Homo sapiens: one gene and its partner. The protein of the gene in region 1 interacts with the protein of each later gene in a pairwise test. Each region holds a gene or a part of one and is shown on either strand. Other genes may lie near its edges. The genes, in order: LRRFIP2 and FLII.

What was found.
Region 2: the proteins of LRRFIP2 (region 1) and FLII interact in binary tests that used the Homo sapiens proteins (3 or more experiments, as listed by UniProt).

Annotation. Positions count from the first base shown.
Region 1 is NC_000003.12:37,157,676-37,173,258, reverse strand, and holds part of LRRFIP2 (leucine-rich repeat flightless-interacting protein 2), read left to right. Parts: intron 1-232; exon of another isoform or gene 233-468; intron 469-15,583. UniProt on the Homo sapiens protein: May function as activator of the canonical Wnt signaling pathway, in association with DVL3, upstream of CTNNB1/beta-catenin.
Region 2 is NC_000017.11:18,244,637-18,260,219, forward strand, and holds FLII (protein flightless-1 homolog), read right to left. Parts: upstream 14,103-15,583; 5' UTR 14,055-14,102; coding exon 13,992-14,054; exon of another isoform or gene 13,841-13,991; coding exon of another isoform or gene 13,811-13,840; intron 12,384-13,810; coding exon 12,273-12,383; intron 11,962-12,272; coding exon 11,890-11,961; intron 10,628-11,889; coding exon 10,547-10,627; intron 10,219-10,546; coding exon 10,133-10,218; intron 10,047-10,132; coding exon 9,885-10,046; intron 9,547-9,884; coding exon 9,443-9,546; intron 9,084-9,442; coding exon 8,908-9,083; intron 8,823-8,907; coding exon 8,665-8,822; intron 7,921-8,664; coding exon 7,836-7,920; intron 7,511-7,835; coding exon 7,363-7,510; intron 7,181-7,362; coding exon 7,044-7,180; intron 6,842-7,043; coding exon 6,629-6,841; intron 6,382-6,628; coding exon 6,202-6,381; intron 4,773-6,201; coding exon 4,690-4,772; intron 4,566-4,689; coding exon 4,491-4,565; intron 4,248-4,490; coding exon 4,164-4,247; intron 4,086-4,163; coding exon 3,914-4,085; intron 3,398-3,913; and 25 more. UniProt on the Homo sapiens protein: Is a regulator of actin polymerization, required for proper myofibril organization and regulation of the length of sarcomeric thin filaments. It also plays a role in the assembly of cardiomyocyte cell adhesion complexes.

The DNA of each region.
Region 1 (15,583 bases):
GGGAGACAGGGTGAGACCCTGTCTCAAGAATAAATAAATGAAACTCAACTTTTTTTTTTTTTAGGTGGAGTCTCGCTCTGTCGCCCAGGCTGGAGTGCAGTGGCGCAATCTCGGCTCACTGCAAGCTCCGCCTTCTGGGTTCATGCCATTCTCCTGCCTCAGCCTACCCAGTAGCTTTGACTACAGGCGCCCGCCACCATGCCCAGCTAATTTTTTATTTTTTATTTTTTAGTAGAGACGGGGTTTCACCCTGTTAGCCAGGATGGCTTCGATCTCCTGACCTCGTGATCTGCCCGCCTTGGCCTCCCAAAGTGCTGGGATTACAGGGATGAGCCACCACGCCCGGCCAATAAAACTCAACTTTTAAAACTTCAGAAGGAAGGAATTGAACAAAACTTGCCTTGTGAACTTTTTGGCTTATAATAAATTATGCTGGACTTCAAAGGAGTCAAACAACTAGGCTAAAAACTGGGTTGATCATGTGTTATACTTCTTCATTAGTTCATTATTCATTTATTTTGATGGGGAGGTCAAGAGATAATTCCACTTCATAGGGAACATATGTATGCATTTGTTTTAGCCTAGTGGTAGGGAGAGCAGTAGATAAAAGTAGAGATAATTAGGGAAGGGGAAGAAATGGCATTATAGAAGGAGAATGCTTATTTCATGGGTTCAGTAGATGTTTATGGGACTTTTAAAAATTGATAAAACATTTTAAAAGGTGGTATATGATGAAAAGAAAGTCTGCTTTCCACCACAAACTCCCAGCCTTTCCTTACCCCAACCCCCCAATCCAAGCAACCATATTCAATCACATATGTCTAGGAGAAATATATTGTATCTTTCATTCTTATCTTTGGCATATGAAGATCTTTTTGTATTTAGCACATATTTCTTACTTTTTTAAAAAAGACCGCATGCCTTGCTAGTGTAGATGAACCATAATTTATTCATTTTCCGTAATTTATTTTACCATTTTCTATTGACAGATATTTAGGTTGTTTTTAGCCTTCTACAAACACTGCTGTAATGAACAATACATATATAAGTCTTTGCATTAGTTAGTATCTATACAGAATGTATTTTCAAAGTGTGACTGTAAGATTGAGACTGAAGTTATGAAAAGTTAAAACTATTTCAATCCCATGTTGGCTTTATTTATAATAGAATTTAACTTATTTCTTGGGCTTGTGGAAGGGGAAAGGAGCTCTTAATTACTTTGTATTCTTTATCCATCTCTCCATTTAAAAAATATTGCAAATTATTTTATAAGGTACTTAAAAACATTTGAGTGTCAGGTGATTAATTTTATTTGTATTGGTAAAAGTAGAAATATTGTGGTTTGAAGACTGGTACTGTCATATAGAAGCATTTATATTTGATAATAGTTAAATGGCTACATCTTAAGTAGGTTGATTGTTTCAGAATTTTATGACCAGTATCAATTAAAAGCATTGTGTATAGTTTAAATTCTTGCCCTGCATAAGTCGGCTACTATATTATTAGTCAGGAAAGAAGTAAATAATCTACCTCCTTTTTTCCTTTACCTTCCACATCCTAATCTATACATAATAAAATAAACCTCTATGGAGTTTGAGATCCAAAAATCCTTTTGCAAACTAGAGTGCTATTTGATGGATTACTTTCTCAAGGCAGGAAGGAGGTACAGATTCAATCTTTATTCTGCAAAGTTTTTGTAAACAGAATAAAGGAGGCTTAGGTTTGATGTTATATAGGTTACTTGTGGCCAGGAGGAGGTTCAGGATTCTTTGCCTTTTTGAAATGAGAGAGACACTAGAGAGAAAAAAAAAAAATTACATACTGAAGGGCTATAGTTTGATGAAGTCGGAACTCATGAGTGGCAGCTTCCCTGGCTTGTGCCCAGGGTCTATTTTGAGACCTTGTCAAAGCTTGCCTGACAGAACCTACCACATAACCATAATCTGGCCTGGTCCTCTTGCAAGTCAGGAAGGCCTGCGGTTTAGGATCAGTGGCAAGCACAGAAGGGGGAGTTATAAAGGACATTTTGCCTTCAGAAGATTAAGGCTAGGTTTTGGGGTGAACAACTACTTAGCCCGTATATCCGAGGATCCAAGTTTTTAGTGCTACCTCCTCCTCCCCTGCTTCTTCCTCTTATTAAGGAAAGCTAAGGAATAAAGGTTTTGTTTGTTTGTGTGTTTGTTTTGAGACAGGGTCTCACTCTGATGCCCACGCTGGAGTCCAGTGGTATGAACACAGATCACTGCAGCCTCGACTTCCTGGGCTCGGGTGATTCTCCCACCTCAGCCTCCCAAGTAGCTGAGACTACATGCATACATCATCACACAGGGCCAATTTTTGTATTTTTTGTAGAAACGGGGTGTCCGCATGTTGCCCACGCTGGTCTCTAACTCCTGGGCTCACATCGTTCACCCACCTTGGCCTCCCAAATTGCTGGGATTACAAGCATGAGCCACTGCGCCCGTCCAGGAGGAAAGTTTTTAGAAAAAGGTGCACAAGAAAGAGCATAGGATTGTGCCAGCATTGATGTTATCTTCTGGTTATATGAGAGTGTTTGCCAAGAATCGGTCAAATGTTTTACATTAGGGAAAAAGCATTATTGTTACTGGCATAGGGAGGGCCCCAGTTAAAATAGCAGTCCAATTCAGAGACCTTCGTATTTGTCGTTAAGATCAAAAGGACTCTTGGAATAATGGACTATGCTACAGGATTATTTTAAGTTCAGATAGATAAATTAGCTTCTTCCCAAATTCTCATTCTGCTTTTCCTGTGGTACTATATAGTATCATGAAGTTATATCTTTAAACTCTTAGTTTGTACTATGTGGTGTCTTATGAAAACCTTGATTTGTTTATACTTAGTGAATGAAACACTTGGGTTTAAAGTTCTTTAACTGATGTCACTTCTTAGGCTAGAAAGCTGTTGAAAGAACTTAGTGTTCCACCCTTAGACCAAGGTTCATGTCACCATATTTAACAGCAGCTTTGTATTACGGTCAAGATTGTTTGAAGAATTCAGCATACAAACTTAATTTACAGATGCAAGCCTGCAGATGGACCTCCCCACCCCCACTTTTTTGCTTTAGATTAGGTTGTGACTGGAGGAAATTTAGTTTTCCTTTGCCTTCAGTTATTTGCAGCTGTTCACATTTATGATGATGAGAATGATGATGATGATAATGTATTTAGGATTCAGTGTGAGGAGAAAAAATAAACTAGTTTTTCTTTCTTCCTTATCAGTTTATTCCCATTATCTTATTTTCCCTTCTCTGTCTCTGCCTTCCTTTCCTCCTCGGGAAAAAAAAGAAAAAGAAAAGAAATAAAAAGCAGCAGTGAAAGAAAGTGGTAAAGAGCTGGGAAAAGCCTTGGAATACATACCAGGGTGCTTTCTCAGAGGTGGAATATAAACACCTTCATTAAAGAATCATGGATTATCTTTTTCCATTGTTTTCATTTTGAACCCTGTATATCTTAGTGTTCCTTCATTACCACATTTTAACTACTTTTGATATAACAGATATCTTTACTGCTTTAGGGAAGCAAATTTAATTTTTATGTTACTGTTCTGAGCATGTTGTTCCTTACATGCCCACTTTCCTAAGTAGAAATATATTAACAGCTAGAAGAAATCTTTTGGCTTTCTGTTTTGTAAGTTAGAGTATACCGTACTGTATGCAGAGGATTAGGATGTTAAAATATTTATTTCCCTGTTAAATGGCTTAAATCATGAACAAACTGAATATATAGCATTGCTTTTTTTAAAAAGTGAGTATCCCAGTTAAGTGACCTAAGGATTATAGGACTAAATGTAGAAAAAAATTCAGCTTTAGATTAGATGTTTTTTCCCTTGTCACAGATAATGCTGTATCTAGGTGAACAGTCAAGGAAATGAGAGGGCATTGTTCTTGTCTTGCCAGATTCATCCTTTGCAATCAAATAAAGTTTGTTTTGTTTTTAAAATTGTGGTACAATATAGATAACATAAAATTTACTCTGTTGACCTTTTTTAAAAATATTTTTATTATGGTAAAATACAGTCATTTGTTGCTTAATGACAGGAATATGTTCTGGGAAATGCATCATTAGGTAATTTTGTCAAGCAAACATCATAGAGTATACTTACACTAACCTGGACAGTATAGCCTACTACACACCTAGACTATATGGTATAGTCTGTGGTTCCTGGGCCATAAACTTGTGCAGCATGTCACTGTACTGAATACTATAACTGTAGACAATTATAACACAGTGGTAAATTTTCGTGTATCTAAACATAGAAAAGATACAGTTAAAATATGATATAAAAGATTAGAAAATAGGCCAGGCATGGTGGTGTGCACCTGTAATTCCAGGTACTCAGGCTGAGGTAGGAGGATCACTTGAGATCAGGAGTTCTAGGCTGTAGTGTGCTATGAGCACATCTATGAATAGGCACTGCGTTCCAGCCTGGGCAACATAGTGAGGCCCCATCTCTTAAAAGGGCACACGTGTATAGGACAGCTCCATTATAATCTTATGGGACCACTGTAATATGTGTAATCCATTGTTGACTGGAACATCCTTATGCAGCACATGACTGTGTACATAACTTAAAATTTATCATTTAAACCATTTTTAAGTGTACAATTCGGTGGTATAAAGTACATTTACATTATTGTGTAACTATCACCTCTATCCATCTCCCTAACTTTTTCATCATCCTAAACAAGCTCTGCCCATTAAACAATATCACCTCATGCCCATAGCCCTTGGTAACCATTGTTCTACTTTTTGACTCTATGAATTTGTGTACTCCAGGTACCTCGTATAAATGGAATTATGTAATATTTGTCTTTGTGTCTGGCTCATTTCTCTTAGCATGATGTCTTCAAGATTCATCCATGTCATAGCATGTATCAGAATTTCATTTGTTTTAAGGCTGAAAAATATTCCTTCGTATGTTTATACCATATTGTTTAATCATCTTTTGATAGATGGGTTGTTTCCATCTTTCTGCTTTTGGGAATAGTGCCACCATGAATATGAGTATGCAAATGTCTGTTTGAGTGCCACATTCAATTCTTTTGTGTATGTACCCAGAAGTGGAATTGCTAGTAATTTGATAATTACCAAATTTCATTTGGTAATTCTATGCTTAATATTTTGAGAAACCACCATACTATTTTCCACAGTGGCTATACCATTTTACATTACCACCAGCAATGCACAAGGGTTCCAGTTTCTCCACATCCTTGCCAACATTTACTATTTTCTGTTTTCTTATTGATTGATTTTTATTTATGTTGAGCCAGGGTCTCACTCTGTCACCAAGACTGGAATGCAATGGCCCGACCACAGCTCACTGTAGCCTTGACCTCCCGGGCTTAAGTGTTCCTTCCCACCTCAGTCTCTCGAGTAGCTGGGAGTACAGGTGTGCACTGCCATGCCTGGCTAATTTTTGTATATTTTGTAGAGATGAGGTCTCTCCATTAGCCCAGGAGGGTCTCAAACTCCTGAGCTCCGCCAGCCTTGGCCTCCCAAAGTGCTGGGATTACAGGTGTGAGCCATTGTTCCTGGTCCCGTTTTCTTTTTTTTTTCTTTTTTCTTTCTTTCTTTTTTTTTTTTTTGAGACAGAGTGTTGCTCTGTTGCCTAGGCTAGAGTGCAGTGGCGCGATCTCGGCTCACTGCAACCTCTCCCTCCTGGGTTTAAGCGATTCTCCTGCCTTAGCCTCCCAAGTAGCTGGGACTATGGGCACCCGCCACCACGCCCGGCTAATTTTCGTATTTTCAGTAGAGACGGGGTTTCGCCCTATTGGCCAGGCTGGTCTCGAACTCCTGACTTTGTGATCTGCCCGCCTCGGCCTCCCAAAGTGCTGGGATTACAGGCGTGAGCCACTGCACCCGGCCTGCTTGTGCCTGGCCCTGTTTTCTAACACAAAAAAATCGATTATTTTTAAAATAAAATCTCTAATAGGGTGGTATTTCACTGTGGTTTTGATTTGTATTTCCCTGGTGATGGGTGACATTGTGCATCTTTTCTTTTTCTCTTCTTTTCTTTCTTTCTTTCTTTTTTTTTTTTTTTTGGAGACAAGATTTTGCTTTGGCACCCAGGCTGGAGTGTAGTGTCACAATCATGCCTCACTGCAGCCTCGACCTCCTGGGCTAAAATGATCCTCCCACCTCAGCCTCTCCAGTAGCTGGGACCACAGGCATGTACCACCATGTTCAGCTGATTTTCTTTTCTCCTTCTGTTTCTTTTTTTTTTGAGACAGAGTTTCGCCCTTGTTGCCCAGGCTGGAGTGCAATGGCGCTATCTCTGCTCACTGCAACCTCTGCCTCCCAGGTTGAAGCGATTCTGCCTCAGCCTCCCAAGTAGCTGGGATTACAGGCATGCGCCACCATGTCCAGCTAATTTTGTATTTACAGTAGAGATGGGGTTTCTCCATGTTGACCAGGCTGGTCTCGAACTCCCAACCTCAGGTGATCCGCCCACCTCAGCCTCCCAAAGTGCTGGGATTACAGGCATGAGCCACTGTGCCTTGCCTCTTTTTTTTTATATTTTGTAGAGACATGTTGCCCAGGCTGGTCTCCAACTCTGGGTTCAAGCAACGTCCAGGCTGGTCTCCAACTCCTGGGCTCGAGCAATACTCCTGCCTCAGCCTCCCAAAGTGCTGGGATTACGTATGTTGAGCCATCATGCCCGGCTGAGCATCTTTTCATGTGACCATTTTTGTATCTTCTTTGAAGAAATGTCTACTTATGTCTTTTATCTTTTTAATTGGGTTTTTGTTGTTGCTTAGTTGTAGGAGTTCTTTATATCAATCCTTTATCAGCTATGTGATTTGCAAATTTTTTTTTATTCCGTGGTTTGCCTTTTTACTTTTTGATAGTGTGCTTTGATGTACACAGTTTTGTTTTTATTTTATTTTATTTTATTTTATGTTATGTTATTTTAAGATGGAGTCTTGCTCTGCCCAGGCTGGAGTGCAGTGGCCCAATCTCGGCTCACTGCAACCTCCGCCTCCTGGGTTCAAGCTATTCTCCTGCCTCAGTCTCCTGAATAGCTGGGATTACAGGCATGCGCCACCATGCCTGGCTAATTTTTGTATTTTTAGTAGAGACGGGTTTTCACCATGTTGGCCAGGCTGGCCTTGAACTCCTGACCTCGTGATCTGCCTGCCTTCCAAAGTGCTGGGATTCCAGATGTGAGCCACCGCGCCCTGCCCAGAGTTTTTAATTTTGATGAAATCCAACTTACCTTTTCTTTTGTTGCTTCTGCTTTTGGTATTATGTCCAAGAAATCATTGCCAAATTCAATATCATGAAGTTTTTCCCATATATTTTCTCCTACGAGTTTTATGGTTTTAGCTCATTTGTTTAGGTCTTTGATCCATTTTGAGTTTTTTCTTCTTTCTTTCTTTCTCTTTCTTTCTTTCTTTCTTTCTTTCTTTCTTTCTTTCTTTCTTTCTTTCTTTCTTTCTTTCTCTTTCTTTCTCTTTTCTTTTCTTTTCTTTTCTTTTTTTTGTGACAGAGTTTCTCTCTTGTTGCCCGGGCTAGAGTGCAATGGTGTAATCTCGGGCTCACTGCAACCTCCACCACCTCCTGGGTTCGAGCAATTCTCTGGCCTCAGCCTCCCGAGTAGATGGGATTACAGGCACCTGCCACCACGCCCAGCTAATTTTTGTATTTTTAGTAGAGACAGGGTTTCACTGGTCAGGCTGGTCTTGAACTCTTGACCTCAGGTGATCCGCCTGCCTTGGCCTCCCAAAGTGCTGGGATTATAGGCGTTAGCCACCATGCCTGACCCCTGAGTTAACTTTTCTATATGGTATAAGGCAGTGGTCCCCAACCTTTTTGGCACCAGGATTCAGTTTTGTGGAAAGCAATTTTTCCATGGACGGGGGTGGGGTGGGTGGGGGGGTTGGTTTCGGGATGAAACCATTTCATCTCAGATGATCATCAGGCATTAGATTCTCATAAGGAACGCACAACCTAGATCCCTCACATGCACAGTTCATTTTTTTTTGTTTTTTTGTTTTTTTTTTTGAGACAGAGTCTCGCTCTGTCACCCAGGCTGGAGTGCAGTGGTGCAGTCTCGGCTCACTGGAAGCTCCGCCTCCCAGGTTCACGCCATTCTCCTGCCTCAGCCTCCCAAGTAGCTGGAACTATAGGCGCTCACCACCACGCCTGGCTAATTTTTTGTATTTTTAGTAGAGATGGGGTTTCACCATGTTAGCCAGGATGGTCTCGATCTCCCGACCTCGTGATCTGCCAGCCTCGGCCTCCCAAAGTGCTGGGATTACAGGCGTCAGCCACCGCACCAGGCTGGAAGACAGTCTTATATAATGTAACATAGTTATGGGAGTAGCATCCTGTATAACCTTTGCCATATTCTGTTGGTTAGAAGTAAGTCACAGGACCCACCTACATTCATGGGGGAAGTAATTACACAAAGGTGTGAACAGTAGGAAGGGCGATTAGGGTGGGGAACCACCTTAGAATTTGTCTACCATAACTGATTACAAAATAGCATGTTTTAGGAACTTTTTTTTTTTTTTTTGAGACGGAGTCTTTTTCTGTCATCCAGGCTGGAGTGCAGTGGCATGATCTTGGCTCACTGCAACCTCTGCCTCCCACATTCAAGCAATTTTCCCGCCTCTGCCTCCCATGTGGCTGAGATTACAGGCGCCTGCCACCATGCATGCCTGGCTAATTTTTGTATTTTTAGTAGAGATGGGTTTCACCATGTTGGTCAGGCTGATCTCGAACTCCTGACCTCAGGTGATCTGCCCACTTCAGCCTTCCAAAGTGCTGGAATTACAGGCATGAGCCGCCATGCCCTGCCATATTAACCAATTTTTGTTTAAAAAATAATGTTATTAAAATAGGAGTATCTTCGGATGGTGGGACTTACTGGTGGTTTTATTGTTATTTTGTATTTCTTCACTATTTCATCCCACTTTCCCTCCCTGCAACATTCCAATTTTGAAATTTTAAATCAATAGTTGGTGTTTTCATTATAATGAAATAAATATTGTTTACTGATCAGCCATGTGGTATATCATACTTGTTTCCTTTCTTGTTTAACTTTGTTTTTTCAGGGAGTTAAAATTTGCCTTTTACATTTACATAATTTTCTGTTTACCTGTTGCTTTCCCCCTAAATGCGCCAACAGATTTTTCAAGAGTCTTCATCTATCTATGTATCTATCCATCCATCCATTCTAGCTTATAACATCAATTTATAAGCTATAAAACGAATTTATTTTGCATAAAATTAGTTGTGAACTATAGAGAAATATAAAACAAAAATACAGTTTTAGGAAGAAGAATACATGAACACCTGTGGTCTCACTACCTAGGTCAAGAAATTACATGTTACATTTATCCTAGAAGTTTCCTCAAGATATCCTTTAATGGCACCCCCTCCCTTCCAGGAAATCACAAGCCTATTTTAACATATTAGTCATTCTCTTGGGACCATTCTCTGCTCAAGCCTGCAATATCCTCCATGTCCATACATGTATTTTTGGCCAAAATTTTTAATTTTGAAAAACCAAAAAGCTCTACTACCTCTCTAAGTCTGTTAGTCAGGATAGGCTGAACTACTTTAATGAATAATTACCAAATCAGTGGTTTTTAACACAAAATTTATTTCTCACTCACATCTTTGCTGTGAGTTGAAAAGCAGTGACAGAGTGGTGGTCTGTTCCACAGAGTCATTGAGGGACTCAGGCTGCTTTCAGCTAGTGATTCTGCCACCCACTGGGGCCTCAGAGACTTTGAATTTCCTGCATCTGGCTGGCAGATGCGAGGACAAAGAGAGGGACTGTGGTAGATTGCATGGAAAGTTTGATGGGCCAGGCCAGGATGTGGTATACATCAGTTTTGTCCGCATTCCACTGGCTAGAACTGAGTCAAATGGCTACACTTAACTGCAAGGAAGGAAAGGGAAAACGCCTTGGTCAACAATGAGCCAATCTCTGCCATGGTATGTATCCCTAAGAAATATATCATTTTGTTTTGGAAAACTGAATAGCAAGCATCAACTGAGGCTGTGAAAGGAAAGGTACATACTGCTGCTATTAGATGAAAGCTCTCAGAAGATAAGCTGAAAAGAGTCTTCCTTGATCTTTTTTGGATAAGTCATTGGGAAAGTTTGTTATTGAGTCTGGAGAAACACAGGCTCCCCACAGTCAGGGAATCTGGCAAAACTAAAGTGTTTACAAGATACTACGGTAAATATCTAGAAGAAATGTGATTGGGAGAGTAGATTGCTCTATGTGGTTTTGCTTCTAAGCTAAGCTTATCACGCTTTAGCTCTCAAGAATAAGGAAAAGCAAAACATGTCTGTGCTGTGAAATAAGTCTTCAGCCCATCTAGGCTCCAGGAACTTTATCAACACGGGGTCAAGACAAACTAAATTCCAATGAAAACCTGGACCAGGCACATCTCATGTTAAATGGATGTGCCCCAAAGGCTGTGGGGATTTTGGTAATGACAGTCCTTCATTATGTCTCTTGAGTCATATTGCTCCAATCTGTAGCTTTCTTTCTGAGATACACCTATCATTCTTCTGGAGGTTCCCTTTTGCCCCTCTTCTGTGTTTGATTTATTTCCTGTATGCTAAGTTTCCCTCTCTGTTGGTTTTTCAGTTTTACTTGCTGAAGCCTATCTTCTAGTAGCTTATTGACAAAGAGTGTAAAAGAGGTAAATTTTTGAGACCTTTCATGTCTGAAAATGCCTTTAATAATCAAGTATGAAAAAGAGGGATTTGACTGGTATAGGCTACTTATAGATTGTCTATAATTTTCCTTCAAGAGTTTGAAGGCATCACTCTTATCATCTTCTTGTTTCCAGAATTACTTTTGAAAGTCTTGAAGCCATTCTTAATCTTTTATGTGTGGCCTGACTTTCCTACCCTGTGGAAGCTTGTAAAGTCATCTTTGTTCTCATTGTTTAAAATTCACTAAGATATACCTTGGTGTGAACTCAGGACTTGTGTTGAACACTCTGGGCCCTTTTAGTCTGGCACCTCATGTTCTTAACTTCTGGGAAGTTATTTTATTAATAATTTATTTTTGTTTTCTCTCTCTCTCTCTTCTTTTTTTTTTTTTTTTTTTTTTGAGACAGGGTCTCACTTTGTCACCCAGGCTGGAGTACAGTAGCATCAACATGACTCACTACAACCTCGACCTCCTGGGCTCAAGCGATGCTCCTGCCTCAGTCCCCACCACGCCTAGCTAATATTTGTAGTTTTTGATAGAGATGAGAGGAGGTTTTGCCATGTTGTCCAGGCTCGAACTCCTGAGCTCAAGGGATCCACCTGCCTTGGTCTCCCAAAATGTTGGGATTACAGACATGAACCACCGCACCCAGCCTGTTTTCTCTTTCTCCAGTTATTTGAACGTTAGTCCCTATGGACTGATACTTTAACCTTATATATTTTTCTTTCTTATTTTCTACCTCTCTCTCTTTTTTTTTTTTTTCTGTTTTCTGTAAGACTTCTTGAACTTTATTTCCCAACCTGAGTTTTGTAAAACTAATTTTTTTATTGAGGTACTACTCGTGTGTCATAAAATTTACCCCTTTAAAGTAGTGACCTTTTCAGTGGTTTTTTAGTGTAGTCACAAAGTTGTGCAGCCATCAGCCCTAATTCCAGAAGGTTTTCATTACCCCTACAAGGAAACTTCATACCATAGCAGTCACTCTCCATTTCCTCTTTACCCGAGACTTTGTGGAAAGCACTAGTCTGTTATACTTTCTGTCCCTATGGATTTACCTATTCTGGACATTTTACATAAATGAAGTTATTCAATATGTAATCTTTGTGTCTGGCTTTTATCACTTCTCATGTTTTCATGATTCAACCTTGTTGTATGTAGCACGAGTCAATACTTTATTCCTTTTTTTTTCTTTCTTTCTTGAAACAGTCTTGCTTTTTGCCCAGGCTGGACGGAGTGCAGTGATGCGATCTTGGCTCACTGTAACCTCTGCCTCCTGGGTTCAAGTGATTCTCATGCCTCAGCCTCCAAGTAACTGGGATTACAGATGTGTCCCACCGTGCCTGGCTAATCTTTGCTTTTTTTTTTTTTTTTTTTTAGTAGATGGGGTTTCACCATGTTGACCAGGCTGGTCTCCAATTCTTGACCTCAAGTGATCCACCTGCTTTGGCCTTCCAAAGTGCTGGGATTACAGGCGTGAGCCATCATGTCAGGCCCAATATATTTGTTTTTATGGCTAGGTAATATTCCATTTTATGGATATGCCGCATTTGCTTATCCATTCATCAGCTGATGGACATTGGAATTGTTTTCACTTTTGGCTGTTAGGAGTAGTGCTACTGTGAATATTCCGTTACAAGTTTTTGTGTGGGCATAAGTTTTCAATTCTCTTGAGTATAGAGTGGAATTGATTATTTCTGTTGTGTTTTTAATTTCTACTGTCATGTTTTAATTTCCAAGATCTTGTATTCTCTGAATTTTTTTTTCTTTTTTTTTTTGAGACAGAGTTTCACTCCTGTTGCCCAGGCTTGAGTGCAATGGCGTGATCTCGGCTCACTGTAACCTCTGCCTCCTGGGTTAAAGTGATTCTACTGCCTCAGCCTCCTGAGTAGCTGGGATTACAGGCATGTACCACCACGCCCAGCTAATTTTGTATTTTTAGTAGAGATAGGGTTTCACCATGTTGGTCAGGCTGGTCTTGAACTCCTGACCTCAGGTGATCCGCCTGCGTCAGCCTCCCAAAGTGTTGGGATTACAGGTGTGAGACACTGCGCCCGACCCTGTTCTCTGAATATTTTAATAGCCCCTTGTTCTTGTTTCATGGCTATAATTTGCCTTAATTTTCTGAAGATATTAATGATGGTTATTTTTGAAGTTTTCTTCTCCCTGCGTAGTTTATTTTCACTAAGTTATTCTTCTGAGTTAGTGGGTTTTCACAGACTTCTTGGTTTGAAAGTAGGTGGGGTTGGTCAATTTTGACCTCCCTCGAAAAGGGGTATATATTTTGGTAGCAGGATGGGTGATTTAAAGGGGGCTGAAGCAGTCCCACATTTCAAAATGCATACTTTCACCTAAGCCCACACTTCCTACTCCCTCCCTGTTCCCATTGCTTACCCTTCCCTTCCCCAGAGCCCCTTTGTCTTCTAGAACTTCTGGTATCCTGGAGAATAGGAGATGAAGTTGAAGCTGAGGTAATAGCCTAGCAATGGAAAGGGGACCTGGAGGTCTAACTACTTAATTAAAGACTTTTAAGTGAATTTTTTTTTTTTTTTTTTTTTTTTTTTTTTTGCGCATAGGGCTTACTCATTGGGCTCAAGCAATCCTCCTGCCTCAGCCCTGCAAGTAGCTGGGACTACAGGTGTGAGCCACTATACCTGGCTAATTTTTGTGTCAAAACCCCAGCTGCCTTTTTTTCCTCCCCTTCTTTTTCTTTCCTTTTTTTTTTTTTTCTTCCAGAAATTGAGAAACTCAGGCTGGGTGCAGTGGCTCACGCCTGTAATCCCAGCACTTTGGGAGGTGGAGGCAGGTGGATCACCTGATGTCAGGAGTTTGAGAACAGCCTGGCCAACGTGGTGAAACCCCATCTCTATTAAAAATACAAAAATTAGCCAGGCGTGGTGGCACATGCCTGTAATCCCAGGTATTCAGGAGGCTGAGGTAGGAGAATTGCTTGAGTCAGGGAGAAGGAGGTTACACTGAGCTGAGATCGCACCACTGCACTCCAACCTGGCCAGCAGCGAGACTCTGTCAAAAAAAACAAAAAAGAGAAAGTAACAAACTCATTCTAAAATTTATATGGGAATGTAAAGGGCCCAGAATAGCCAAACAGTGTTAAAGAACAAAAAATTTGGAGGACTCACTTTTTCCAATTAAAAAATTTACTGCAAAGCTATGTGAATCAAGATGGTGTGATACTGGCATAGGATAGACATTTAGCTCAATGAAATAGAATTAAGTATCCAGAAAGTAAACCCTTACTTTTATGGTCAGTTGATTTTTGACAAGGGTGGCAAGGTAATTCAGTGGGAGAAACAATGGTCTTTTCAACAAATGATGCTGGGACAAATAGATATCCATGTGCAAAAGTGTGAAGTTGGATCCCTGTCTTATACCATATATGAAAATGAACTGAAAATGGATCATGGACCTAAATATAAGAGGTAAAACTGAAACTCTTAGAAGAAAATGTAAAAATAAATCTTCATGGCCTTGAGGTAGGTTTCTTGGATATGACATCAAAAGAAGCAACAAAAGAAAAAAATGGATAAATTGGACTTCTTCAAAATAAAAACTTTTGTGCTTCAGAGTACCTTCTCTCTGGTCTCTTTACTTTTATTTTCCCAGTATTCTCTTTTGCCTACTGAGAAGGCAGTGACAGTGCTATATAAATAGTGCCTTGCAAATTCTCAGTAAATATTTGTTGAAAAGGGAAAAATTAAAGGTATGTGATAGGTTTTACTTTATGAAAATTTCTAGCTTTAGAGCCTCCTTCATATTAATTGCATTTTTTTAATATTGAAAAATTATATCCTTGTTACATGTGTTCCCATTTCCCTTACTTTTTGTTTCATCTTGATTCTTTGGTTCTTTGCTACCTAGGCTTATATTGTTCTTTCTAATACTTCTAGTCTTTTCCTGTTTTCTGCTTTATTTCATACTTTTTTTTTTTTTTGAGAGGAGTCTTGCTCTGTTACCCAGGCTGGAGTGCAGTGATGCGACCTTGGCTCACTGCAACCTCTGCCTCCCAGGATCAAGCAATTCTCCTGCCTCAGCCTCCCAAGTAACTGGGATTACAGGCATGTGCCACCATGCCTGGCTATTTTTTGTATTTTTAGTAGAGATGGGGTTCCACCATGTTGGCCAAGCTGGTCTCAAACTCCTGACCTCAAGCGATCCACCTGCCTTGACCTCCCAAAGTGCTGGGATTACAGGCATGAGCCACCGTGCCTGGCCTGTTTCACACTTTTAAGTCTTTCCTACTCTCAGCAATATGTAATTGTTGGTCTCCCTTTCTTTTATACTCTGATTGTATGTCCATACATCTCTGAGATACTTTAAAAGGTATCAAGAAAGGAGGCTATTTGAATGGTACTAGAAAGTGGTTTGCTTCTCAGAAAATACGGATAAGTGAATTGTTTAGTCTATCTTCCTAATTTGGGTTCTGCACAGTTGATGAAATAGTATAAAGATTTATGTCCAACATATAGCCCATTAATGTTCATTTATAGAATAACATAACTACCAAGTAAAGAAATGCAACCACTGGCATGTTATATGAAGGGAGGAAATGGAAAGATTATCAGTTGTGTTGGAGACATGAGGATAGTGGGTAGTCAAAATATGATACTTTAAAAATATTTTTGATAATTCTTAGGACAAATGACTATAAAAGTAGGAGAAATAATTATATAGGTTCTCTTCCTTTGTAAGCATTTCTCTTTATAAAGTATGAGTTGTAAGTTAACCATTATAGTTTCTAATGTTCTTCTGACATTTAGTTTGTGTTTAGCATTTGCCTTTCCTTGTTTTGCCAAGTTCTCCAGTTTTGCCTGTATATATTTTTTTCATTTTGTACTTTGCCTCAATTTCTGAATGTACCTTC
Region 2 (15,583 bases), on another chromosome or scaffold:
ATGAGTGTGTGTGTGCGGGCATGGATGTGACTGGGAGCTCTGCTGGGCACCCACATCTGGGGCCTAGTCAGGTGTGTGTGTCCGGCGGGGGGGGGGGGCAGGGGGGGGGGTCAAGATGAGTTTCCCTGTAGATTGTACCTTGGGGTTTTTTTCTGTCGTTTTGTTAAAATTAGCGCCATTTTAATATTAAAAATACTGATTTTTAATATTGAAAATAAAAGCATTTAATATCTCTTAAAGGGCATCCACATCTGCTTTATCCCTAGCGGAAGAGTGAGGGGGCTTCACACGTGCACTCACACTGTGGAGAGAGTTGGATTTCCCAGACCCCTGAGGGCACCTGTCAGGGTCATCCCCATTGGTGCTGCTTGAGGCTACTGGGGACTGTGGCACTGGACGTGGCTGGAGCAGGTGGTGTCACCTGAGTACATTCTTTGCTAGCAGACAGTGGATGAGGCCCCTTCCTCTTCCTCACCAAGCCTGGGGCTGTGCCAGCCTGTCTTAGGCCAGGGCCTTGCAGAAGGCGCTCCAGGCGTGGAAGCAGCGGGTAAAGGCGTGCTGCTCATTGCCCTTGCGGACCAGGCGCAGCCGGCGCGGCCGCTCATGTTCCTTGGACCGCATGTGCTGGATATATACCTGGCAAGGGGACAGCGAGCCTTGGGTGATGACCCTGCCCTGCCCACAGGCCCACCTCGGCCCTCCCTCCACCCAGATTACCTGGCAGGCCTTCAGGCTCAGCTTGATCTCCACCTGGCTAGTCTGGGTCCCCACCCACATGTAGACCTGTGGGGGCAGCAGGGGAGATACGGTTGCATGGGTGCCTGGGAACAGCCCCTTGCTCCTGGCCCGAGAATTCCCATTTGTAAGTAAGTCTATGGGCGCCTCCTTGGATGGGCAGGGCTAGTGGCAACATCACACCTCTTGGCCATTGTCTAGCAACATGATGTCATCATCTGCCAGGTCATCTTGGCAAAAGTCGGAGCATTTCTCAGTCACTGCAAAGTAGCCCTTCTCGTTGGAGCACCTGGGAATCAAGGGTCAAGGTGAGGCCAGAGGTCATAAGCAGCAGTGCCAGGACTGAGGGGAGGGTCAGGGCCCTGGCCTCACCGGAAGAGACGTGTGTGTTTCATGTACTCGGCATCGTCATCATAGGGCTTCTGTGCCCCAATGCCCACCCAGAAGAAGTTCTCAGGCTCCTCACCTTCGTTGATAACCTGCGGGAAAGGCCAGTCCAGCCCAGGGCCCCTGCCTGCCCTGGCTCCTCTGTGTGTGCCCGCCTGCCCGCCCGCCTCCTGACCTGCTTGCTGTAGGAGGTGTCAAACATGGTGTTCAGGATGTCTTCTGCCAACTTGGCTTCGTCAGGGTCTGATGCCCGGCCCACCCAGGCATACACGATGCCCTGGTTGTCCTCACTCTCAAAGGGAACCTGGGGAGTGTGCAGGGGTGGGGGTGTTCGCAGCTGACTCAGCCCCCAAACACCCCACCCCTTGGTCCACGGAGTCCTGGCTCACACCCACAACCCCACCTTGAGGATGAAGCAGAACTCGGAGTTGAGGAGGCTGGAGTCGGTGTTGATCTGGATGCACCTGTGGAAGGGATGGGGCATCAGCAAGGATTCAGGCCTGGCTCCCTGACGCTTGCTCGCCACTGCGTCCTCCCCCAGCCAGGCACCGGGTGCAGAGGGCGCTGCCGTTGGTGCGGATCTGGTAGAGGCTGGGCTGTTGGGCGCCCTGGACCGCCTTCCTCTTGCCCCGGTGGATGATGAACTTCCTCTTGAAATGGGACAGGAACTTGGGGTTCTCCTGCTGCTGCGTCATGCGTACCACCTGGGGATGTGGAAGTGTTAGGGGCAGCTCCCTGGACCCCCACCTGCCCCTCGGGAGCCTAACCTTCGCTGGGTCTGAGCCCCACCACACCCCTCCGCCTGGCCTCGGGCTCGCGGGGCTGCCAGGCACACCTCCAGCTTCCCAGGGAAGAGGCTCTCGAACTTCTTTTGCAGGCTGAAGGTGAAGGTGAGCCAGCCCATATTGGAGGCTTCACGGCCCTGCCAGAAGTACACGATGCACTGGAAGTCCTCCTCTGGCTGCTTCTCCTCTGCCTCAGCGGTTGCTTCCTCGCCTTCTTTGCCCTCGGCCTTCTCCTCCTTGTCTTCCTTCTTTTCCTCCTCCTCGTACTCCACAGGCACCCAGTACCTGCCGGGTTGGAAGGTTGTGAGCAGGGGCTCGAGCCCCCAGCACCAGGGGAGGGACTTGGGGAAGGGAGTGCTGAGGTGGTACCTGCAGAGGAAGACGTAGCAGTCCTGCGTGTAGAAGTGGCCAAACTCCTCTTCCGGCAGCCGCGCAAACTTCTTGCCCTCCAGCACGAAACCCTCCATGCCGTCTAGGTCTTCGTTCCACTCCTCCATCAGCTGCTCCGCCTGCAGGTGAGAGGGACCCGCCCCGCGGCAGGTCTGAGCGCGCTCTGCGCATAGGCCCCGCCCTCGGCCTGCCCCCCACCCCCCCCCCCGCGCCCCGGTCCCGGCCCTGCCCCCACCTCGGCCAGCGACATGGGCGGCTGCCGCGGCAGGAAAAGCGCAGTGAGGTCAGCCTTCATCTGGTCTTTCTTCTCGGCGTCGCGTTTCACCTTCCCGGAGAGACCCGGGCTCTGCAGCACGGCCTCCGCATTGCGTGTGTAGTCCACCGTCAACACATCGTCCCAATTCTTGAACTTGGCCTTGAACACCTGCCAGGGAGGCCATCAACTAACCATGAGGGGTGCGGCATGATTAGAGTTGGAGGAAGTAGCCCGAGGCTTGAGGCGGGACCCAAGGGAGATCTAGGGCGGGGCTTGGGAGGCGGGGCCTCGGACACGGAGGTAGGAATAGGAGGGGCAGCTTGCAGAGGGGGCGGGGCCTGGGCAGAGTCAGCAAAGAGGAGGTGGGTTTGGGCCCAGCTCTGTAGGGAGGTAGTGAAGCCACAGGGGTCAGGGCATGTCAGGGTGCGAAGGATCCTGGGGAGGGGCCTCCGAAGCTGCAAGCGCACCTGCGCCTCGGTGCCCTCGAGGCTGCGGCTGACCGTGGCATGGCGTGGCCGGTGCAGCATCCCGCACAGCTCCTGACCCAGCTTGAGGGCGGCAGCGCGCACCAGGCGCGGGGACTTGCGGCCGAGCCAGATGAACACGTCGGACCAACAGTCCAGAATGTACACGCAGCGCGTGTCCAGCAGACTCTGCAGCTGCGGACCGGGAGTCTGGAGGTCAAAGCCCAGCCAACGGGGAGGGATCTGGCCCCACGCCCTCCTCCTGCATCTCTTACCAGCCGCATTCTTGGCATCAGCTCCACCTTGGGACGCTGCTTATGTTCCACGGAGAGCTTGTAGTTGATCTGTGGCAGCTCCAGGTAGCCCAAGCCCAGGCCCACCTGGCAGGAAGGATGAGCATGGCAGGGAAGGGATCTGGAGACAGGAACCTCACCCACACAGCCCTCTGCTCTGGAACCAGCCCTGCCCTGCAGCGTGGCTCACTGACTGCTTCTGTTTCCCCCTCCCCTTCAAGGTCTTTTTAGGGATATCCTTTCAGAAGGGCTTTTAAATGGAGTTTTCCCTGCCTGCCCTCTCCAGGCCCTTCATGCCATTTCTAATTAACGTGTCCCTTTCCTGTTCACAAGAATCTAGATAATTGAGCCAAGGTTCCCAGCCCTGGCACTAGGTGCTTCTGTCTCCCCTACGGCCCCACCATCCTGGAAAGACTCCGTGAGGCTACTTCTCAAAAGCAGCCTCCAGACCTTTGCTCATACTGTTCCTTGTCCAGAAGGTGGCACCCTCTCCCCACCAAAGTCGAGATGGAGCCCAAAGCCAACTACATCGGTGTGTAGTCCATTCCCCCAGTCGGTGGGTGAACTTGGGAGGCCAAGGTGGGCCTCAGCAGCAGGGCTCACCTTGTACAGCTTGGGCTGCGGCGGCCAGAAGTCTTCAGGCACGTGCTTCTTGATCTCAGAGGGCTCCCCACCCAGTGCCTCCCAGAACTCTGGGAGCTCCTGGCCCTGCACCAGCAGTGTGATCTCAGCCTTCCCTTTCCGCTCATTCTTGTTAATTTTCTCTGCAAAGAGCCTGAGAGCAGGATGCAAAGTCATCAGCGAGGCTCACACCCCTTTCCTTCACACAAAAGACCCCACGGTGTCCTTGTACCTGGCCTTGGTGGTGCTGCTCAGTGTGGCCTGGGCCCCCCGCCATACGTAGATGTCTAGCCCTCGGTCCAGCAGGAAAACAAACCTGGACAAGAAGGGGCAGGAAGGAGCTGTGATGGTGCATGGGGCAATGGTCACCCCATGCTCCTGACCCCACCAAAAAAAATCCCTCACTATGGGGTTTCTGGGTAAGCCCCAGGGACCCCCCGCCAAGCTCGTGGGCAGGAATTGCTAGAGGGCCTCCTCTTCTAAGAGGCCCACACCTGCCCCCACTGGTGGGGAGGAGGCTGAGGATGAAGCACCCCCACCTCACATTGTTGGGGCTCACCTTGGGTCCAGAGAGGTCCCCTTGAGGGGCACAGGCTCCAACTTGATGTTCTTTTTCCCATACACACGATACATCCTGGGCGCAGGGCAAGAGTGGCTCAGTGTAGGCACCAAGGGCCTAACTTAGCCCCAACACCCTCCCCTCCACCCCTTGCCAGCAGACTCCAGGTCCATACCCCCCACTGCCCACACACCCTCACCTGGTGACATAGTGTGTGTCTTCCACAGTGTAGAAGCCACTGGCTGTTCCACCCTCAATGTAGGAGATGTCGTTGTCAAACACCTGTGTGTGTGAGGGTGTGGTTCTTCATCACTGAGCTGCCCCCTCCCCCACCAACCACTGCCCCTCAGGTGGGGGTACAGAGTTGCATACAGGTGAATTGAGTGCTACAAATCTATGATGCCTGTAATCCCAGCACTTCAGGAGTCTGAGGTGGGTGGATCACCTGAGGTCAGGAGTTGGAGACCAGCCTGACCAACATGGAGAAACCCTGTCTCTACTAAAAATACATAAATTAGCCAGGCGTGGTGGTGCATGCCTGTAATCCCAGCTACTCGGGAGGCTGAGGCAGGAGAATTGTTTGAACCTGGGAGGCGGAGGTTGCAGTGAGCTGAGATTGTGCCATTGTACTCCAGCCTGGGCAACAACAGCAAAACTCTGTCTTAAAACAAACAAACAAACAAACAAACAACAACAAAAAAAACAGATCTGGCTGGGCACGGTGGCTCATGCCTGTAATCTTAGTACTTTGGGAGGCCAAGGCGGGTGGATCACCTAAGGTCAGGAGTTCGAGACCAGCCTGGCCAACATGGCAAAACCCCATCACTACTAAAAAAATACAAAAATTAGCTAGGCGTGGTAGCACATGCCTGTAATCCCAGCTACTTGGGAGGCTGAGGCAGGAGAATCGCTTGAACCCTGGGGGCGGAGGTTGCAGTGAGCCAAGATTGTGCCACTGCACTCCAGCCTGGGCAACAAAGCGAGAGTCTGTCTAAAATAAAACATACACATCTGTGTCTATAAACATACACACGTCGGGGTGTTGGGATGTATGAAAAATATGGACACGTTCACCCACGTTTGTAAAGATGCCAGCAGCATGTTTAGATGCACGCATATCAGGGTACACAAGCAAGTGGGTTCATGGAAGAGTGGAAACCTGGGTGAATGTGGGTAAAAAAAACTCGGGGCGGGTGGGGTGTGTGCATAAACTCCACGTGTGTGTACATGCGAACATATGTCTAGGTGTAACCAGCTGGCGGCTAACACTGCTCAGTAATTTATTCAAGACTGGACTCTGGTCCCGCCCTTGGCCCCACCTCCTTGGCATCCAGGTGTGTCCTTGCCTCCTAATAACAGGTTTTGGCCCTGCCTTCTCACTGCTCTTGGCAACACCCCTTCCACCCTACTCTCAGCTCCCCTGTGTCAGCCCACTGGTCTAGCTCCCATGCCCAGCCTGTACCCTTATCCTTGCCCGGCTGAATTCTGCCCCGCGTTCCAGAACTCTCCTTTGCTGACCCAGGCTTTGGCCACCTTAGACCTCACCCTGCGGTCTGCCTTAGGTCCCGCACAGTATCGTTGATCCACCCCCTTTAACCCCAGCTCCCTGCCTGCCCACCTGTTCTGCCTACCTGCCTTGGGCCCACTGCCCCTGCACCAGAGTTCCCTGGGAACCCCACTCTGCCCACCCCCAATTTTAACGGGCTGGCACCTGCAGGAACTCCTCGCTCTCATCGCCCATCTCCTCCCGGACAGTGCGGCACTCAGCACCCAGGTAGTTGCGCAAGTTGACAGCGTGGATGGCAGAGCAAGCTTTCTTGTCGAGTGTGGCCTCCCCGCCAATCCAGTAGTAGATCTCCCAGTTGAGGGAGCCGCTGTCATCCAGAAAGGTCTGGAAGCCAAGGCACCGGCCACATCAGCTTTCATCCTGGTCTTCCGGCCACCCCGGAGACGCCACTCTGAACAGCACAGGCTTCCCAGCCCCAGGGGCTTTGTACTGCCCCTGTGCCTGGACCACCTCCTGCAGCCTGCCCACCTCCCACCTGGCCTCCCTGAACAAAACTCTGGAGTTGGGGACTGAGCCATCTTAGAGGAAGGTACTGGGCCACATGGCCCCTAACAGCATGCCCAGCCCTCACCTTGAGCACAATGTAGCAGTCAGCCTCGTAGAACTTGCCGTGGAAGGCTTCCTCCACCAGCACAGGCACGAAGTTCTCTATCTGCCAGATGGTCAGTCCGGGCAGCTGGCCCACGTCCTCCGTGAAGAACTCGGAGTAGTCAAGGCGGGGCTTCTCCAGGCCCTGGTCCCAACGCCGCACCTTCCCGCTGGGGGCCCGGGCATCTGCGCTCTCCTGGGGGCAGAGTCACAGAGCACGGCTTGACTCTGTGAAGCCACTCAGGCCAGTCTTTACTTGCTACCCACACCTCAGGGCCTTTGCACAGCTGTTCTTTCTGCCCAGCACCCCCCGTCCCTCTTGGCCAGGGTCAAGGCCAGGGTCGGCCTTCAGCAGAAGCTAAGGCTCCCTGCCTTGTCCCAACCCTGGCCTGGCTCACCTCCTGCTTTTTGTTCTTCTCCTGGGCAACATCTGACATGCCCTTCAGCACCTGCTTGGCCTGGTCATCCTGGGCTGAATCCTTGCGCCTCCGCAGTCGCATCTTGCGAGCCATAGGGTCCTTGGGCCCACTCCCTGCTTAGGGGAGGGGCAAACAGCTGAGCCCTCACTGGGCCTGCTGCCCCCTTGGGCATGCGACCAACCAGGGGCCAACTCCACCCACCAGGGTCCAGAAAGCTGTATGCCACCCAATTTACAGATGTGTCATTTGAGGCCTGGAGAGGAGCCCCCGTTCCCAGGCCAGACCTTTCCCCACTCACCAGCTGCAGCTGCAGCCACGGTAGCAGGAGAGGCACCCGCTAGCCGCAGCTGGTTCTGCAGCGAGAAGTCGATGTTGTACCACTCAGCGGCACGGTCTGCGGGCTTGGGCGGCATGACCAGGTTGGGGTTCTCCCGCACATCCAGGACCTGCCCCATAGGGTGAGCAGAGCCGGCACTGAGCCTGGGTCCTACCTCCCAGACACACCAATCCAGTTTCTTGCTCTTGTCTGCAGCCGCCAGGGCTGAGAGGTCAGGGAACTGGGTTCTCCTCCCACCCACCTCTGGGGCTGGCTGGGGGCTTAAATGAGACTGTGGAATGTACTCTGGATGCAGGGAGGTGGGGCCCACCTTCTCCCCACGGGCACCCTGGCACTGGCCACCTCCCTCAGGAGGCCTCTGCTGGGTCCCCCTTGCTCCAGGGCACACCCCTTGCTTGTCTCTCTTGAGCCCTCTCAAACCCAGCATGCCTGACCTCGATCTCCGTCAGGAAATGGATGGCTTCTGGGAGGGTCACCAGGTGGTTCTTGTTCAGGACAAGTTTCCTCAGCTTTGGGCACCTGTGAAGACAGGGCCAGCCAGGGCCTCAGGCAGGTGACAGACAAGGGGAAGTGGGCAAGAAAACCCCTAGTCCTGGGGAGGGGAGGCAGGTAGGGTCAGAGGAACTGGCGGGGGTCTCCATTCTCTGCCTGAAGGACTTCTCAGAGCCAAGAGACCATGTTACGGGCACTGTGATCTCCAGAAGGGGAGAGAAGCAACACTGCGTTCCCACGTCATGTGGCCTTGTCCCTAACAGTGCCCCCCGAAGGGTGCTCTCAGGGGCTCAAGTTGGGAATGGCTGGCATGGGACTGTGGTCTTCATCCACAAAGGTGAGTTAACTGGGCCGGGCGTGGTGGCTCACACCTGTAATCCCAGCACTTTGGGAGGCTGATCATTTGAGGACAGGCATTCAAGACCAGCCTGGCCAACATGGTGAGACCCCATCTCTACTAAAAATACAAAAAGAGCCGGGCGTGGTAGCGCACGCCTATAATCCCAGCTACTCAGGAGGCTGAGGCAGGAGATTCGCTTGAACCTGGGAGACAGAGGCTGCAGTCAGCCGAGATTGCACCACTACATTCCAGCCCAGGCGACAGAGCGAGACTCTGTCTCAAAAACAAAAAAGAAAAGAAAAGAAAAGAAAAGGTGAATTAACCCATCTTCATTTTGTCTGACTTGCACAGACCACAAGGTGGGCTCTGACTACGATCCCGGGGTTCTCTGTGCTGCAAGTGCCTCTGCTAGCCCCAGCCCTGCCCAGCACCTGCAGAGACTTTCAGGGACCAGCTCCAGGTTGTTGTTGGCAGCCATGAACTCTTCCAGGTTGGTGAGCTTGCCAATGCCTGAGGGCAGCCCGTCAAAGTCCAGCTTGTTGGAATTCAGGTACAGCTTCTTCAGCTTGCTCAGCTTGCAAATGGCTGACTGGAGGGGGAACGGGCAGGGGTGGGAGGTCAGGGCCAGGCTCACGGCCTTCCTCCCATCCCCCTACTGAGGGCCTCAGACGCACGGGCAGTGAGGTGAGCTGATTTCGGGACAGGTTCAGAGTTTCCACGTGCACCCACTGGTCTATGCACAGGGACAGCTCCGTGATCTGGTTGCTGCTGAGGTTGAGGCGGCGCAGGCTGGGGAGGGTGTACAGACACTCGGGCACCCGTGTCAGGTCATTGCAGGACAGATCCACGTCTGGGGTGCAGGGTGGGGTGCATCAGCTGGGGCCCATACACCAGGTGCCAGGGCAGCCAGCCCTAGTGTGAACCCCAGCTCTGCCACCTCTGAGCTGTGTGGCTTAGGCAAGTGACAACTGCTGTGCGCCCAAGTTTCTCCATTTGGACAAACTCCCTCACATGGGGGTTGCGGGGGAGTTTTCTAGGCATAAAGTCAGTGTTAAGGCATCATCATAATCGCAAAAGTCACTGTAACATAACTCCAGCCTTTTCCCTCTGGGTATTGGTCCGAAGAGCAGGGTTCAACCCCTTCCACCCAAGGAAGCAAGAGGGCCCAGAGGGGGCCCGAGCTCAGAGGGGCTCCTGGGGCTGCCTGACCTGCGAGGTTGCTCAGACCCTCCAGGCTGGTGGGCAGGTTGCTCTGGGTGCGCTGGGTGCTCCGCAGGTGCAGGGTCTGCAGGGCCGTCATCGCTGGGAGCTGCCTGCCAGGGTGACGTGAGTGGTCAGGGCCAGGGCCCACCTAGGGAGTGTTAAGGGTGGGGCTTGGCAGGGCAGGACCAAAAGCACAGGGCCCAGAGGGTAGGTGTGAGGTCACATCTGGTTGAAGGGACAAGCCCAAGGGTGGTTGCGGGGTGTGTAAGCGGGAAGACAGGACTGAGAGGTGGACATGATACTTAGGAGGTTGTACACTGAGGGGTGCTGCCTGCACGGAGGGATGGCTGGGCCTAAGGGAGAAGGGTTAGGGCCCTGGGAAGTGAAGGGGCCCGGCCAGACTCCTCAGGGTGGCTTCTGCAGGAGTGCGGTCCGAGGGGGCGCCCACCGGAGCTGTGCATGCAGCAGGGGGTTTCCATTGAGCACGAGCGTCTGCAGGTGCACCAGGCGGCGCATCTGCGGGGGCAGGCTCTCCAGGCGGTTCTCGCTGAGGTCCAGGTATAGTAGGTCAGTGAGGTTGATGAAGAGCTGGTTGGGGATGGTGTCGATGCTACGGGTGGGGAGCAGGAGCCACCTGAGTCAGCACCAGCCACCCCACAGGGCCCACCTGCCCCCTGCCCCCCACTGGCCTGGCACCTGTTGTGGCTGAGGTTCAGCACCAGCATGTTCTTGGCGTTCTCCAGCTCCCGCGGGCACTCTGTCAGCTGGTTGTGGCTCAAGTCCTGGGTAGAAGGGGCAAGACCCAGGTCAGGGGAGTCTCCTCCCCACCAGGCGTCTGCCAAGCTTGGGGATCAGGCAGGGCACTGAGTTGGGTGTGGGGGTAGATGAGGGGGCTTCAGGGCCAAAGGGAGACAGCCAGGGACTTGGGAGGAAGAGTGCCTGTGTTAGGGATCTGACTCCAAAAGTGACCTCAGGCAAGGTATTATCCACTCCAAGACTCAGTTTTCCCATCTGCAAAATGGGATAACAATGGCCCCAGGGACTTTTATAGTGAGTGGGGATTGAATGGTCCGGCTAGCACAGGGGCCAGGTGAGTGGGTAGCCACTGACCAGGACTGAGAGATCATCTAGCTTGAAGATGTCATCGGGGACTCCGGAATTCTTCAGACTGTTGGCTCGGGCCACGATGGCCTGGGAATAAACCATAAGAGTCTATAATTCCTGGCTTCCACTCTCAGGAAGGAACAGAGTCTAGAGAGGGACACCTCCTCAGGCAGCTCACCAGAGGCCAGGCCTGAGGACTCTCTCACCTCTGGCCTTTGATCAAATAGCTCCCTCTCCTGGAGCGCTCTTCCTAGCCTCCCAGTGAGCTCCTATTCATGCCTCAAAGCCCAGCTCAAATGTGCCCCGGAGCCCCAGCACAGGGCCCTCAGGGAACCTTTTCTGTTCAAACCATTTCTCTTCTTCTTAATTCCAGAAGGTGAGATAGGGGTAAGGTCTGAGTCAGGGTTTTCAGAACAGAGGGAGAGAAGTGGACCACAGAGAAATCAGAATCTGGATGGAGAGGAAGTCTGCTTTCTCTCCCTAACTTAAGACTGACACCTCCTCATACCTTACAGACATGCAGAAAGCTTGAGCATGAGGGAACAGGGCCAGAGAATGGTGTCGTGACTCCAAGTGACAACGGGAGTCACCGGAGCTGCCCCGCCACTTCTCCAGTCTGAATGCCTGTGCGGCACCCTGCTGCTGCTTCACGGGGTCACTGCTGCCCCTCCCAACCACTGCACTTGCAGAGGAGGCCCAGAAGGTAGAAGCGATTTGTACAAAGTCACATCACCAGGAAGTGGCAAAGCCCAGCTTTGAACTCAGAGAGTCCAAGTCAGAAGCTGTGCCCTAAACATCTCCAGGGCTCTGACTTCAGATGGGATGGCCCTCGTTGAGGCCTACAGGGTCTGGCCAAGGGCCTGATGTTCTGGGACGTTCAAGTCTTGGGTAGAAGGTACACGGTGCTCCCGGCCAAACCCCACTCAACACCAGCTCTACCACTGCCTGGCTCTGTGACCTGGGGCAAGTAATCTGCCTTGGTGGCCAAGTTTCTCTTCTGCAACATTAGTGGAGGGCTAGAGCATATGAAAAAATCCTAACAGAATAGTGGGAACATTGCTCAGCCAGTCTTGGCTATTATTACTGTAGTTATTGTCCATAACGGCTGGTAAGATTTTGGATTTCTTTACCTTTTTCCTGATGGAATTCTCTGATCCACATGGGTTACTTTACACAGGGCACTGCTGTAACCTCTAATGAGAGGGCCCCTCTGTGACACCTGAGCCTCTGAGCCTGACACGGAGGTGGGCAGAAATGCTGGCCCAGCTTGGTGTCTAGCCCAGGCTTCACGTCCCTGACCGGACCTTGGCCCCAACCCCAAGCTCGGTGGCCTCCCGGCCAGCACTCACGCGCAGCGATGGCAGGCTGGACAGCTCCCCATGAAGCGTGGTCAGGTTGTTGTGGCTCACAGACAAGTGTTCCTGGGCCGGAATGGGGAGCACAGGCTCAGCAGGGTGGGTGGGGTGTCCAGAGTCCCTGCCTGCCTCCACAACTCTGCACCATCCAGGAAGGCCTCAGCCACACTGGCCCAACTACCCCTGCAGCTTCCCTCCCTCACTCACCCGGCCTCTTCTTGCACACCTCCCTGGACAGGGTGCCCACTCCCTTTCTTCCAGCTCTGCTCATAGCTGTCGGTGTTCCTCTCTCTGGAGAAGTTGTCTGCCTTCTCCACAGGCTCTGCCCACCTGGCTCATCCACAGGGACCCTCCCCTGCCCGCCCAAACCCCCTTACCAGCTTCTGCAGGGCGGCCAGCTCCTCGGGCAGGTAGCAGAGGCCAGTGCGGTTCAGCTTCAGCCACCGCAGGCTGGTCATGGCCTTGACATTCTCAGGGAAGTAGCCGCCCTGGGGGAAGGATGTCAAGGTGAAGCACAGAGCCCCTGCTCACCACCTTCTATGGCTCCTCCAGCCCATGGGAGCCTTTGGGGAGCCACAGAACCAACTCTCACCATCTGTGAGAACACAGACAAGTCATTTCATCATTGTGCCTCAATTTCTTCACCCATAGAATGGGAATTTTAAGCCCCCCCGTGACAAAAGTGTTGGCCTAAGATTTGTCTCTCCTACTGGATTCTGGGCCCCAGGAGGGCCAGGACAAAACTGGCTTGTTTCAGGTGAAAGCCCAGCATCCGGCTCTGTGGTTAGCTCGGCTCAAATTCCTTCACCTAGCATTCCACACTCTGACTGGCTGCCTGGGGTGGGGGATCCCCCTTCCAAGCCTTTGCAAAGGCGCCACCTGTGCCCTCATCCTGCCATCAGCACACTGGCAACTCACGGCCAGGGTCAAACCCTTGCTTGCGGAGACCGTGGCTCCCCACCCTGCAGGGCAGGCCAGCATCACTGCACTCCCCTGGTGTGTGAACGCCCACCTCGGCACCTCCAGCCCTTGTGGCACCAAGTCTGGGGCAGTAGGTGCCTTCAGTGCCTGCGGCTGATATTCCTTTCCCCCTAGCGCCACATTCCCAGCTGGTGACTCGGACTCTCCCAGTTCAGCAAAGAGGAACGGGGACCCCAGGTTAGGGTGGTGGGGATGGGGTCAGGGAAAAGTGGTGTAGCCACTTGTACTTGGGGTCAAAGGTGTGTACACAGGCAGGTAAACGCAGGAAAAACCTGCCTCCTCGGCCCCAGCCCCAGACCAACAACCCAGGCCGACCCTGCCAGTCACCCACCCTGAAGGTGAGGCTGACCCTCCAGCCAGCTCTCCCTCCCTCTCTTTCTCTGCTTCCCCTTTGGTCAGGCAATGCCTGTCTCATTCTTGAGTCCTGGAACCACCCCGCCGCCCCACCCACTGGCTGCGGAGGGCTGGGCTCCGGTCCCTTTTCTCTCAGTCCAGCAGCTGCTCAGACAACTGCCACCCAGCACCTGGCACACCGGCCTGACACACTCTCCACACCAACAAATCTCACTATACTCCTTGCGTCCAAGGAGGAGACTTTTAAGCCCCTTCACCGGCTGAGAAAGCCTAGGCTCTGAGAGGGGAAGTGATCTGAGAGGCCCAGGATCACACAGTATGGCGGGTGGCGGTGGCGGGGAGAGGGCAGTGATGAGTCGGCTCCACACCCGCCCCTGGGCAGCCGGGCAGCCATCCCTGAGTCAGGGCCTGGCTTGGGCGTGTGACCTCAGAGGGGCGGGGAGGCTCGCCCGATCCCCAGGCCACCATCCAGCCTAGACCGAGAACACGGACGCGGGGTGGGGGCTCCCGGCCGGGCCCCCGGCGGGACTCCGAGCCCAAGCGTCCGTCCCCGGCCTGCCCAGCCTCGGTCTCCCCGTACAGGCACTGGGCGGAGGCCTCGGAGGTCCATTCCTGGCCAGGGGAGAGCCCCACCCCGCCCCGGCCGCAGTCCCTGGGACACGCAGGGCCTGGAGCCGAGCGGGACAGGAAGCGGAGGCCAAGCGGGCCGGGCGGAAGAGAAGGCCTGCAGGGAGGCCCGGCACGCGCCCGGCCCGGCTCACCTTGAAGTCGTTGCCGCTGAGGTCCACGCCACGCACGAACGGCAGCACCCCGGTGGCCTCCATGGCGCCGCTCTCGCTGCCGGGCCGCGCCGGGCTAGGGAGCGCCGGGGCGAGGGCGCTGGGGGGAGCCGCGGGCTGGGCCAGCGCCGGCCCCGCCCCTTTAACCCGCCCGCGCCCGCCGCATTCCGCGGGGAAGTGTAGGCTTTAGGCCTCTTAGGGCCTCAGTTTCCCCGTCTGTTCGAAGACTGCGGAGGCACCAAGGAGTGCGGGCCCCCCCTGTGCTGGAGTTGGAGGCTTCCACGATCTCCAGGCTTAAGTCCCAGCGCCCCAGGGCAGGGGCCGTAACGGCCGCTGGTCGAGGCACCGTCACCTGCGCTGCTGCAGCACATGAAGCTGGCCCTGACCTCAGAGAGATTCTAAACCTCGGCCCCGGGGCGCAGAGGCCCAGGAAGTGCCTGTACTTGGCTGACCGGTGGTAGTGAGACACCTGGATCCTCGGGTCCTAGCTCTCCTGCTTCTGGACTTAGTTTCCTCATGTGTTGTTTTTGTTTTGTTGAGACAGGGTCTTCTTGCTCTGCTGCCCAGGCTGGAGTGCAGTGGTGTGATCATAGCTCACTGCAGCCTCGAACTCCTGGGCTCAGCCTCCCGACTACCTGGGATTATAGGCGCAGGCCACCACACCTGGCTAAATTTATTTATTTTATTTATTTTTTATTTTTTTTGAGACAGAGTCTCGCTCTGTCGCCCAGGCTGGAGTGCAGTGGCGCAGTCTCGGCTCACTGCAACCTCCGCCTCCCGGGTTCACGCCATTCTCCTGCCTCAGCCTCCCGGGTAGCTGGGACTACAGGCACCCGCCACTACGCCCGGCTAATTTTTTTTTTTTTTTTTTTTGTATTTTTAGTAGAGACGGGGTTTCACCGTGTTAGCCAGGATGGTCTCGATCTTCTGACCTCGTGATCCAACCGCCTCGGCCTCCCAAAGTGCTGGGATTACAGGCGTGAGCCACCGCGCCCGGCCTTATTTATACTTTTTGTAGACACGGGGTGCTTGCTATGTTGCCCAGGCTGGTCTTGATCTCCTGGCCTCAAGTGATCCTCTGGTATCAGCTTCTCAGAGTGTTGGGATGACAGGCGTGAGCCACCGCGCCCTACCCAGTTTCCTCATTTGTAAAATACTTTCTAAGGTTGTCACCATGAGCAAATTAACAAAGAATGCACGTGTAGCTCGCAGCATACAGCAGGCGCTCAGTGAGTGGCAGGTTATTATTCCGTTTTGTTTTGTTTTGTGCGCCAGGTTATTATTCCCACTTAGTGTCAGCACCCCTGTGCTCGTACCCCCCTACAAAGGGAGGCTCCAGAAGAGAAGCATCCGTCTTGGTCCTTGCTGTTCAAGGGGGCTCGCCCTGGCTGACACATAGCAGGACCCCAATAAATGAGCCACAGCTGTTATATGCCCAACCATCCTTCGCAGGGGAGGAGGGGGTCTAGTGTCCCCATTTTACAGGAGAAAAACTGATGCCCAGGTGGAGAATGGCCCACACAAGCTCGCACAGAGCAGGTGGCAGGGGTAGGCGCTGTGCCCCTCAGGCCCAC